Homo sapiens: one gene and its partner. The protein of the gene in region 1 purifies or fractionates together with the protein of each later gene. This does not show direct contact. Each region holds a gene or a part of one and is shown on either strand. Other genes may lie near its edges.

Evidence for each region. Proteins that work in one complex are often made in the same cells at the same time.
Region 2: the proteins of DIMT1 (region 1) and MTPAP purify together in Homo sapiens (affinity purification with mass spectrometry, with the first as the bait; one large-scale study listed by BioGRID). This does not show direct contact.

Annotation. Positions count from the first base shown.
Region 1 is NC_000005.10:62,395,992-62,401,233, forward strand, and holds part of DIMT1 (dimethyladenosine transferase), read right to left. Parts: intron 2,891-5,242; coding exon 2,829-2,890; intron 2,749-2,828; coding exon 2,655-2,748; intron 2,570-2,654; coding exon 2,520-2,569; exon of another isoform or gene 2,438-2,519; intron 1-2,437. UniProt on the Homo sapiens protein: Specifically dimethylates two adjacent adenosines in the loop of a conserved hairpin near the 3'-end of 18S rRNA in the 40S particle.
Region 2 is NC_000010.11:30,331,132-30,336,373, forward strand, and holds part of MTPAP (poly(A) RNA polymerase, mitochondrial precursor), read right to left. Parts: intron 1-5,242. UniProt on the Homo sapiens protein: Polymerase that creates the 3' poly(A) tail of mitochondrial transcripts. Can use all four nucleotides, but has higher activity with ATP and UTP (in vitro). Plays a role in replication-dependent histone mRNA degradation.

The sequences.
Region 1 (5,242 bases):
AGAAAAAGAAAAAAAAGAAAAAACATAAACTTTATTATTCAACATAAGCTCCATCAAGTTCAAGACACTTTTGTAAGTGATGATACCAGCATTTTAGTCTATATCAAAAAAACTGAGGCTCTGGGGAATTTAGCCATGTCACTGCAGGTTTTTTTTTTTTACATTATTAACTGAAGAAAAAAGAGTGCCCTTTCAAGATTTTTTAAGACTGGGAAACGAAAATAAATCAGAAGGGCTGGGCACCATGGTTCATGCCTGTAATAATCCCAGCATTTGGGGAGGCTGAGGTGGGCAGATCACTTGAGCTCAGGAGGGGGAGACAGCCTGGGCAACATGGCAAGACCCATCTCTAAAAAAAATACAACAATTAGCTGGGTGTGGTGGCACATGCCCGTAATCGCAGCTACTTGGGAGGCTGAGGTGGGAGGAATGCTTGAGCCCAGGAAGTGGAGGCTGCAGTGAGTGCAGATCATACCACTGCTCTCCAGCCCGGGCACCAGAGCAAGACTGTCTCATAAAATAAAAAGAAGTCAGAAGGGGCCCAATCAGGACTGTAAGGTGGATACCTAACCATTTCCCATTGAAACTCTCGAAAAATTGCCCTCGTCTGATGAGAGGAAGGAGTAGAAGTATTATGGTGGAGGAATCTCTGGGGAAGCTTTCCCAGGAGTTACTCTGCTACATCTTAGCTAACTTTCTCAAAACACTCTTGTAATAAGCAGATGTTTTCATTCTTTGGTCCTAAAGAAAGTCAGCAAGCAAAATGCCCTGAGCATTCAAAAAAAAACTGTTGCTATGACCTTTGCTCTTGACTGGTCTGCTTTTGCTTTGACTGGAGCCACTCCGTTTCTTGGTAGGCATCACTTTCACTCTGCTTTGTCTTTAGGATCACACTGGTAAAGCCATATTTCATCTCCATTACAATTCTTTGTAATTCTTTGAAGAAATGTTTCAGGATCTTGTTTTCTTTTTTGACAATCTCGCTCTGTTGCCCAGGCTGGAGTGTGGAGTGCAGTGGCACAATCTTGGCTCACTACAACCTCCGCCTCCTGAGTTCAAGCGATTCCCCTGCCTCAGCCTCCCGAGTAGCTGGGATTATAGGTGCCCACCACAATGCCCAGCTAATTTTTTTATTTTTAGTAGAGATGGGGTTTCACCATGTTAGCCAGGCTGGTCTCCTGACCTCAAGTGATCTGCCCGCCTCGGCCTCCCAGAGTGCTAGGATTATAGGTGTGAGCCACTCCACCCAGCCATGTTTCAGGATCTTGATCCCAGTTATGTAAAATTTCCACTGGAAGCTCTGCTTTTATCTGCAGCTGATTTGAGTACAATGTTTTTTGTTTTGTTTTTTCATAAAATCTTTCAGAAAAGAGGGTATGACAGTTTTGGCATCTATCAAGTACAAAGTTTGTTTAACTTTGATTTTGCAGTCAGAATTGTGTAAGCTAAACCAACTGTGATGTCTATGGTGTTGGCTATTGTTTGTGCTGTTGAATGTTGTTCCTCGTCACTTAGGGAACAAACAAGATGAATGTTTTCCCACAAATTGATATGGCCAGTGTGCCACTGTAGGCTTCATCTTCAACATTGTCTCAGCCCTTCTTAAAATGAGTTATCCATTAGTAAACTGCTGATTTCTTTGGGATATTGTCCCCATAAACTTTTTTTTTTTTTTGAGACGGAGTCTCGCTCAGTCGCCAAGGCTGGAGTGCAGTGGCGCGATCTCGGCTCACTGCAAGCTCCGCCTCCCGGGTTCACGCCATTCTCCTGCCTCAGCCTCCCGAGTGGCTGGGACTACAGGCGCCCGCCACTACGCCCGGCTAGTTTTTTGTATTTTTAGTAGATGTGGGGTTTCACCATGTTAGCCAGGATGGTCTCGATCTCCTGACCTCATGATCCGCCTGCCTTGGCCTCCCAAAGTGCTGGGATTACAGGTGTGACTCCATAAACTTTTTGTAAAGCATCAATGATTTCACCATTCTTCCAACCAGGTTTCACCATAAATTGGATGTTTGTTCTTACTTGAATTTTAGCAGAGTTCATGTTGCTCTGATAGGGGCTCTTTTCAAACTGATGTCTTATCCTTCTCAGTGCCTCACACTAGATCCTGCTCAGTTAGTACAGAGTTTATTTTGGTGCAAAAAAATTTTGAAATCCATGCAAGTTTTTTTCATAATACACATTTTCCATGAACTTTTTGAAGACCTCTTATACTAGAGACCAGTTAGGAAACCACTGCAATTGTCTAGACATAAGGTAATAAAAATTCTAACCTAGACTTAACGGCAGGAAGATTCAAAAATAGGGAAAGGCTGTCTGGTCTCAGAAGCAGGACTTCCAGCACACTACCCCCAAATAACCTCTCAATTAAAGAGAGAAAGACCTCCATACAAATCAACATTTTCTACAAAAATTCTTCAGTAGTTTTTCAACTGACCTGACTCATTTTTGGCTATGTTCACCACCTGAACTGTAAGTCTTTCAAAATTTGGCAGTAACTCTAGTCTTTTGTCACAAACCTGAAAAAAGGTCGATGTAGCAACAGCTTGAAGACAAAAGGTGAAGAGATCTGTAAGAGAATTAACTAGTTATTTCCGGGAAAGACACATCAGAGGAACAGTTAGTATGATGTTCCTGAAAATGTGAGGACATACCTGATAAGGCAAATTTGCCACACAAGTATCAAAGAATGGCAAATCTGTTTTCAGCACATCACCCACCAGTACTTGAAGTTTGCTGGCCACAGGCCTGATGAGAAAAGAAGAAATGTAAAAAGAATGTTGTTTCATGAGATTGAAATGCACTTTAATTCTATTATGTATACTCACGTGCCCTGAACTCTTTTGTGAAGTTCAGCTACTAGCCTTGGGTCAAGTTCACAAGCAACAACCTAATTTAAAAAAAATAAAAATTATTTAGGTTAATTATGGAATATAAATCTTTTATTGTTATCCCAACAGGAACTCTTACATGATTTATGTGACAAACTTCTTCTCCCATTTCTACCATCAATATTCCTTTAATTATACTCGCATACTTCAAACAACAAACAAAAATGGGCCGGGTGCAGTGGCTCACGCCTGTAATCCCAGCACTTTGGAAGGCTGGGGTGGGCGAATCATGAGGTCAGGAGTTAAAGGCCAGCCTGGCCAACATGGTGAAACCCCATCTCTACTAAAAATACAAAATATTAGGCCAGGTGCAGTGGCTCACGCCTGTAATCCCAACACTTTGGGAGGCTGAGACAGGCAGATCACCTGAGGTCAGGAGTTCGAAACCAGCCTGGCCAACATGGCGAAACCCCGTCTCTACTAAAAATACAAATTTAGCTGGGTACAGTGATGGGCATCTGTAATCCCAGCTACTCGGGAGGCTGAGGCAGGAGAATTGCTTGAAACTGGGAGGCAGAGGTTGCAGTGAGTCGAGATCGCACCATTGCACTCCAGCTTGGGCAAGAGACAGAGACTCTTGTCTCAAAACAAAAACAAAAACAACACAAAATATTAGCTGGGCCTAGTGGTGGGCGCCTGTAATCCCAGCTACTCAGGAGGCTGAGGCAGGAGAATTGCTTGAACCCTGGAGGCGGAGGTTGCCATGAGCCAAGACTGTGCCACTGCATTCCAGCCTGGGTGACAAAGTGAGACTCCATCTCAAAAAAAAAAAAAAGCCGGGTGTGAGGCTGAGGTGGGCGGATCATGAGTTCAGGAGACTGAGACCAGCCTGGCCAACATGGTAAAACTCTGTCTCTACTAACAAATTCAAAAATTATCTGGGCGTGGCGGCACGTGCCTGTAATCCCAGCTACTCAGGAGGCTGAAGCAGGAGAATTGTTTGAACCAGGGAGTCAGAGGTTGCAGTGAGCCGAGATCGCGCCACAGCACTCCAGCCTGGCAACAGAGCGAGACTCCATCTCAAAAACAAACAAACAAACAAACAAACACCACCACCCAGAAAAGTAGACAACCAGATTATGTGAGAGTTCTACTCATATAATCAATAGAATCATGTTTCATCTGTCTCCATGCTTTGTAATTCAACAGATGATGAAAAAAATACACTACATGTCTCTGCAGTCAGTGTTGTTAGAGAAGAGCGTACAATGCAATTGCTCTTACTGTTAGTATGTCACATCTACTGAGATACACAATACATGGCATAGATAACTTCTCAAGTAAATGAAAATGGATGTCAAATAAGGCCGAAATTGAAATTTTATTGCAATTTCAGCTGAGGTTTCACTGACTTTATTTTTATTAAAAAATAATTTTTTTTAAGAGATGGGGTCTCACTCTGTTGCCCAGGCTGGAGTGAAGTGGCGCTATCATAGCTCACTGCTGCCTCGAAGTCTTGGGCTCATGGGATCCTCCCACCTCACCTTCCTGTGCAGCTGGGACCACAGGTGTGTACCAGCACACCAGGCTAATTTCCTTTCTTTATTTTTAATAGAGACGGGTCTCTCTATGTTGCCCGGGCTGGTCTCAAAACTCCTGGGCTCAAACAATCCTCCCACCTTGGCCTCCCAAAGTGCTGGGATTATAGGCGGGAGGCACCATGCCCAGCCTTTTTATTTTTTATAGAGATTGGGTCTCGCTTTGTTGCCCAGGCTGGTCTCAAGCTCATAGCTTTAAGCAATCTTCCTGCCTCAGCCTCCCAAAGTGCTGGGATTACAGATGTGGGCCACAGCTCCTGGCCCTACTTCTATATAGACCCTGTTTACATGGTAAACAATGTGTTTCTTACTCTGTTTGGCTCCCAGATCTATCTTTAGTTTTATTTTTATTTTTTGAGACAGGGTCTCACTGTGTCACCCAGGCTGTAGTGAAGTGGCAGGATCATGGCTCACTGGAGCCTCAACTTCCCAGGCTCAGGTAAACCTCCCACCTCAGCCTCCCTGCTAGCCAGGGCTACAGTCAGGCACCACCATGCCCAGCCAATTTTTTGTAGAGATGGGGTTTCACCATGTTGCCCAGGCTGGTCTTCAACTCCTAGGCTCAAGCCATCCACCCGCCTTAGCCTCCCAAAGTGCTGGGATTACAGGTGTGAGCCACCATGAAAGGCCCTCCCAGATCTATTATCCGCTTTTCTCTGCATCCTACAGATAATGCAGTTCAGCTCCCTTACCTTTCAACTTCTGGTTGGAATTGGCCAGTGAAAGGCACCAGCATTATAGGGTACAAAGGGGAGGCGTTGGGTATTTCCTTCCTAATTAAACTCCCTGTTGAGGCTGGGCATGGTGGTTCAT
Region 2 (5,242 bases), on another chromosome or scaffold:
TATGAGCAAAGGAAAGATATTCTCAAAAATGACTGTCCTCTATTAAATAAATAAAAACTAGAAAAACTGTTCACAGACAGTTAGATCCATAAATACTTCCTATTAATGTGTGCTATTCCTATAGCACTATCTGTTTATTAGCAAATCATCTAATAAAGAAAAAACAGAAGTTAAGCACACTGTCCACAGCAATCATTCAGATAACAGAAAGCAGTACTCAAGACTTAGGCACTAATTCTTACTTTTATTACCTAAGTCCTCTAAGATACAGAACCCTGTAAGAAAAAGCAAAACTGAAGGAAAGACCAAAGGCAGATTTTAGTTTAGGATTTTGTGCTAACATGATCTTTGTGATAAGTCAGGTGACATATTTCACATGTAACCAACTTTTACACACACTAAAAAATTTATGAACATTAAAATCTACATTTCAGTTAGTAAATAACTTTCCTTCTTTTTTAGTCTTGCTCTGTCGCCCAGGCTGGAGTGTAGTGGCGCAATCTCGGCTCACTACAACCTCCGCCTCCTGGGTTCAAGCGATTCTCCTGCCTCAGCCTCCTGAAGAGCTGGGATTACAGGCACCCGCCATCATGCCCGGCTAATTTTTGTTATCTTTGTAGAGACGGGGTTTCACCACATTGGCCAGGCTGGCCTTGAACTCCTGACCTCAGGTGATCCGCCCACCTTGGCCTCCCAAAGTGCTGGGATTACAGGCGTGAGCCACCACGCCTAGCTGTAAGTAACTTTTATTCATTCATTAGCAAATAATTTTAGTCCCTATCGTGCATGGGATATCATACATAGTGCCATAAGACATGCAAAAAAGTCTAACACACTCTTCCTAACTCCTCTCAGATTGAGTTGAGGAATAAAACACACACACAAAGAATTATAAAGCAAGGTGTAGTGTGAAAAGATATCAAAGAAACAAAAGGTAAGAGAAGAGCTCATGAATGCAGAAAGTAGTCAAAGAAGGTTTTATGAATCTGATGAATGTAAGAGTACTTGTATTTTTTATTGTATTTTATTTTTAATATTTTTACTAGCAAAGCTATTATAATCTTGAACAAAAACATATTTCCAAAAAATCCTTAAATAAGCACATGTATGTTTATAACAACACTTTCCTAATTTAAACTGACACAGGAAATGCCAAGTTCTGGTTATTTCTGTGTATGTATGACAGAGTCTTGCTATTTCGCCCAGGCTGGAGTGAGGTGGCGTGATCTCGGCTCACTGCAACCTCTGCCTCACCGGGTTCAAGCAATTCTCCTGCCTCAGCCTTCTGAGTAGCTGGGATTATAGGCTCCCACCACCACGCCCAGCTAATTTTTGTATTTTTAGTAGAGACGGGGTTTCACTACATTGGCCAGGCTGGTCTCGAACTCCTGACCTCAAGTGATCCACCCGACTTGGCCTCCCAAAGTGGTAGGATTACAGGCTTGAGCCACTGTGCCCGGCCCAAAATGCCTAATTGTTTAGTAAGACTGGAGCACTGTCTTTAAAACATCTTTTTCTAAATACCTCTATACCTCAGAAATCTAAGAGTAAGACTCAACTAAAAGTTTCTAGGCCAGGTGCAGTGGCTCACACCTATAATCTCAGCACTTTGGGAGGCTGAGGCAGGAGGATCGTTAGCCCAGGTGTTCGAGACTATCCTGGGTACCGTGGTGAAACAACGAGTCAATAAGAAAACAAAAATTAAAATGGCCGGGCGCAGTGGCTCATGCCTGTAATCCCAGCACTTTGGGAGGCAGAGGCAGGCAGATCACGAGGTCAGGAGATCGAGACCATCCTGGCTAACACGGTGAAACTCCATCTCTACTAAAAATACAAAAAATTAGCTGGGCGTGGTGGCGGGCGCCTGTAGTCCCAGCTACTCGGGAGGCTGAGGCAGGAGAATAGTGTGAACCCGGGAGGCGGAGCTTGCAGTGAGCCGAGATGGCACCGCTGCACTCCAGCCTGGGAGACAGAGCAAGACTCTGTCTCAAAAAAAAATAAATTAATTAATTAAAAATAAATTTAAAAAAAAGAAGAAAGTTTCTAACTCCTGCCTGTTTCCACCAAAGAAAAAATTTTGCCTCCCACTTACATAAGAGTAAAATTATATTGCTGTTGATGGTGGTCAACATTTCAACACTTACTCTGTGCCATAAGCACTGTTCTAAATGTTTCACACATATTAACTCAATAAATCCTCTCAAACATTGTATGAGATATGTGCTATAACACCATTCCAATTTTATAGTTAGGACAATTGAGGCAGAGAGAAGGTAAATAACTTACCTAGGATCACATTACTAGTAAGTAGAATTAAAATTCTGCAGCTTGATGCCAGAGCCCAGGCTTTTTAAACCATTACAACACACTGTTATGCTCCTTGATTATTCAGTTACAATCCTTTATTTAAGACAGCCTAATGTAATTTAAGTGCCACTGCCAGGAACTTAATATATTTTCAAGTACATGTTAGTCTTAATAAAACTGATCCAGGCCGGATGCGGTGGCTTACGCTTGTAATCCCTATAATCGTAGCACTTGGGGAGGCCGAGGTGGGTGGATCACCTGAACTCAGGAGTTCGAGACCACCCTGGGCAACATGATGAAACACTATCTCTAAAATAATTAGCCGGAAGCAGCAGTGTAAGCCTGAAGTCTCAATCACACGGGTGAGGCAGGAGAATTGCTTGAGCCCAGGAGGCAGAGGTTACAGTGAGCTGAGATCATACCACTGCACTCTAGCCTGGGCAAAAGAGTGAGACCTCATCTCAAAATAGTAATAATAATAATTATTATTATAATAAAACTGACCCATTTAATTTTTATCTGTTTCCTATGCCTGGCTAGCTTCAATTCAATAAGCATATGGTGAGCAAATTAAGTACACAGTACTGTGGAATAAGTATATGAACAGACATGATTCCTATCTGCCCAAGTTTATTATATAGTGGGAGATACATACATCAGCTACTCACTAAACATGACAGAAGAAATTTGGAGACAGATAGAAATACCTGCAAGATACTACAAAAAAGGAGTGGTTAATTTTGGCTGGAGTGGAGAAAAAAATCAAGAGCGGTTTCAAGAAGGTAGAATTAGAACTAGACCTTGAAAGCTGCATTAGGAATGAGTCGAGGAATGGAGGGAAAGTGCACTCCTGAGTGAAGGCACAGAACAACTGTTTGATCATTATGATATTTACAAGTGCCTTCTATTACTGGAAATGGTAATTAAACAATGTGGTTGGGGCCGGGCATGGTGGCTCAAGCCTGTAATCCCAGCACTTCGGGAGGCCAAGGTGTGTGGATCACCTGAGGTCAGGAGTTCCAGACCAGCCTGGCCAAAATGGCGAAATCCCATCTCTATTAAAAACACAAAAATTAGCCGGGCGTGGTGGGGCGTGCCTGAAGTCCCAGCTACACAGGAGGCTGAGGCAGGAGAATCACTTGAACCCAGGAGGCAGAGGCTGCAGCGGGCCAAGATCATGCCACTGCACTCCAGCCTGGGTGACCGAGTGAAGCTCCGTCTTAAAAAAAGAAAAATAAAAACAATGTAGTTGGAAAATTGGGTATGTAACAATATATAATGGGAAATGATGACTAAAATTAATTAAGACACAGAGGATTTCAATACTATGCTAAAGAAAAGAAGCATTCTAACTTTGTGGGAAAATTCAAACTGTGAGTGAAGGTAACTCCAACAAAGACTGAAGGTTAAAATATCAAGGCATGACACAAGGAATAAGAAGTGGAAACAGAATGTAGTTACAATAATCTAAGTGAGAGTTTATAAGGGACTGTGAAACTATGAATACAAAAGATAACAACTTAGAAGCAGAATTAAAAGAATGGTTAGCAAAGCTAAAATGCCACTAATTAACATGTGAAACATATAGAACTTTTGTAAGAACTTAGAAAGAACATTTGTGGGAAGATGAATATAAGTTGTCTCAAAATATTGTTTGAAATATCAACTGGACATCCACATAAAGTCTGATGTTCACTACTAGTTTGAAAGATGTAAGGAAAGATACAGCCATAGAAACTAAACATTTTATAAAAACACATAGCCTTGGCCGCGTGTGGTGACTCACGCCTGTAATCCCAGCACTTTTGGGAGGCTGAGGTGGATGGATCACCTGAGGTCAGGAGTTCAAGACCAGCCTGACCAATACGTGAAACCCTGTCTCTACTAAAACAAAAAAATTAGCCGGGCATGGTGGCCCCTGCCTGCAGTCCCAGCTACTTGGGAGGCTGAGACAGGAGAATTGTTTGAACTTGGAAGGCGGAAGTTGCTGTGAGCCTAGATCACGTCACCGTACTTCAGCCTAGGCAACAGAGCAAGAGACTCTATCTCCAACAAAAAAATAAAAATAAAAATAAATAGCCTTTTCAACACTGTAATTAAATTAAGACATCATTTATATTGTTTGGGAGGATGGAAGAGACACTGGTTAATTTTACCATTAGACATCGTGTTAAAGAGAACATAAATGGAAGAAATAATATCCAAACTTGAAAGAGAAAAAAAGGGTAAGGAGGAAAGTGCAGGAATAAAGCAGGAGTAATCCAATAAAAGGAAGAAAGAAAGTGAAAAGCTGCTGGGAAGTGGCCCATGCCTGTAATCCCAGCACTTTAGGAGGCCGAGGGGTGTGGATCACCTGAGGTCAGGAGTTCAAAACCAGCCTGACCAAGGAGGTAAAACCCCGTCTCTACTAAAATACAAAAATCAGCTGGGCATGGTAGCAGGCGCCTGTAATCCCAGCTACTCAGGAGGCTGAGGCAGGAGAAATCACTTGAACCCGGGAGGTGGAGGTTGCAGTGAGCCGAGATTGCACCATTGCACTCCAGGCTGGGCGACAGAGTGAGACTCAGCCTCAAAAAAAATAAATAAATAAAAGAAAGTGAAAAGCAAAAGCACAGAAAATAGGAAATAAAAAATAAAACAGGAGAAATTAGTCCAAGAATTATCAGCAGTAACAATAAACATATTGAACTCAAAGACTGATAGACTGGAGTAAAAGCATACTGCTATTTATAAGAGATACACCCAAACTAAAATAACATATATAAAGGCTGAAAATAAAGAAACAGAAGACATGTGAGACAACTACCAAGCGGCCATATTAACAAATAAAATAGAACTTAAGAAAAAAGTATTTATAGAGATGAATAAAGCATGTATGAGGGATATAATAATAAAACAATCTAATAAGGAAATATGATGATCGTATACCTATATG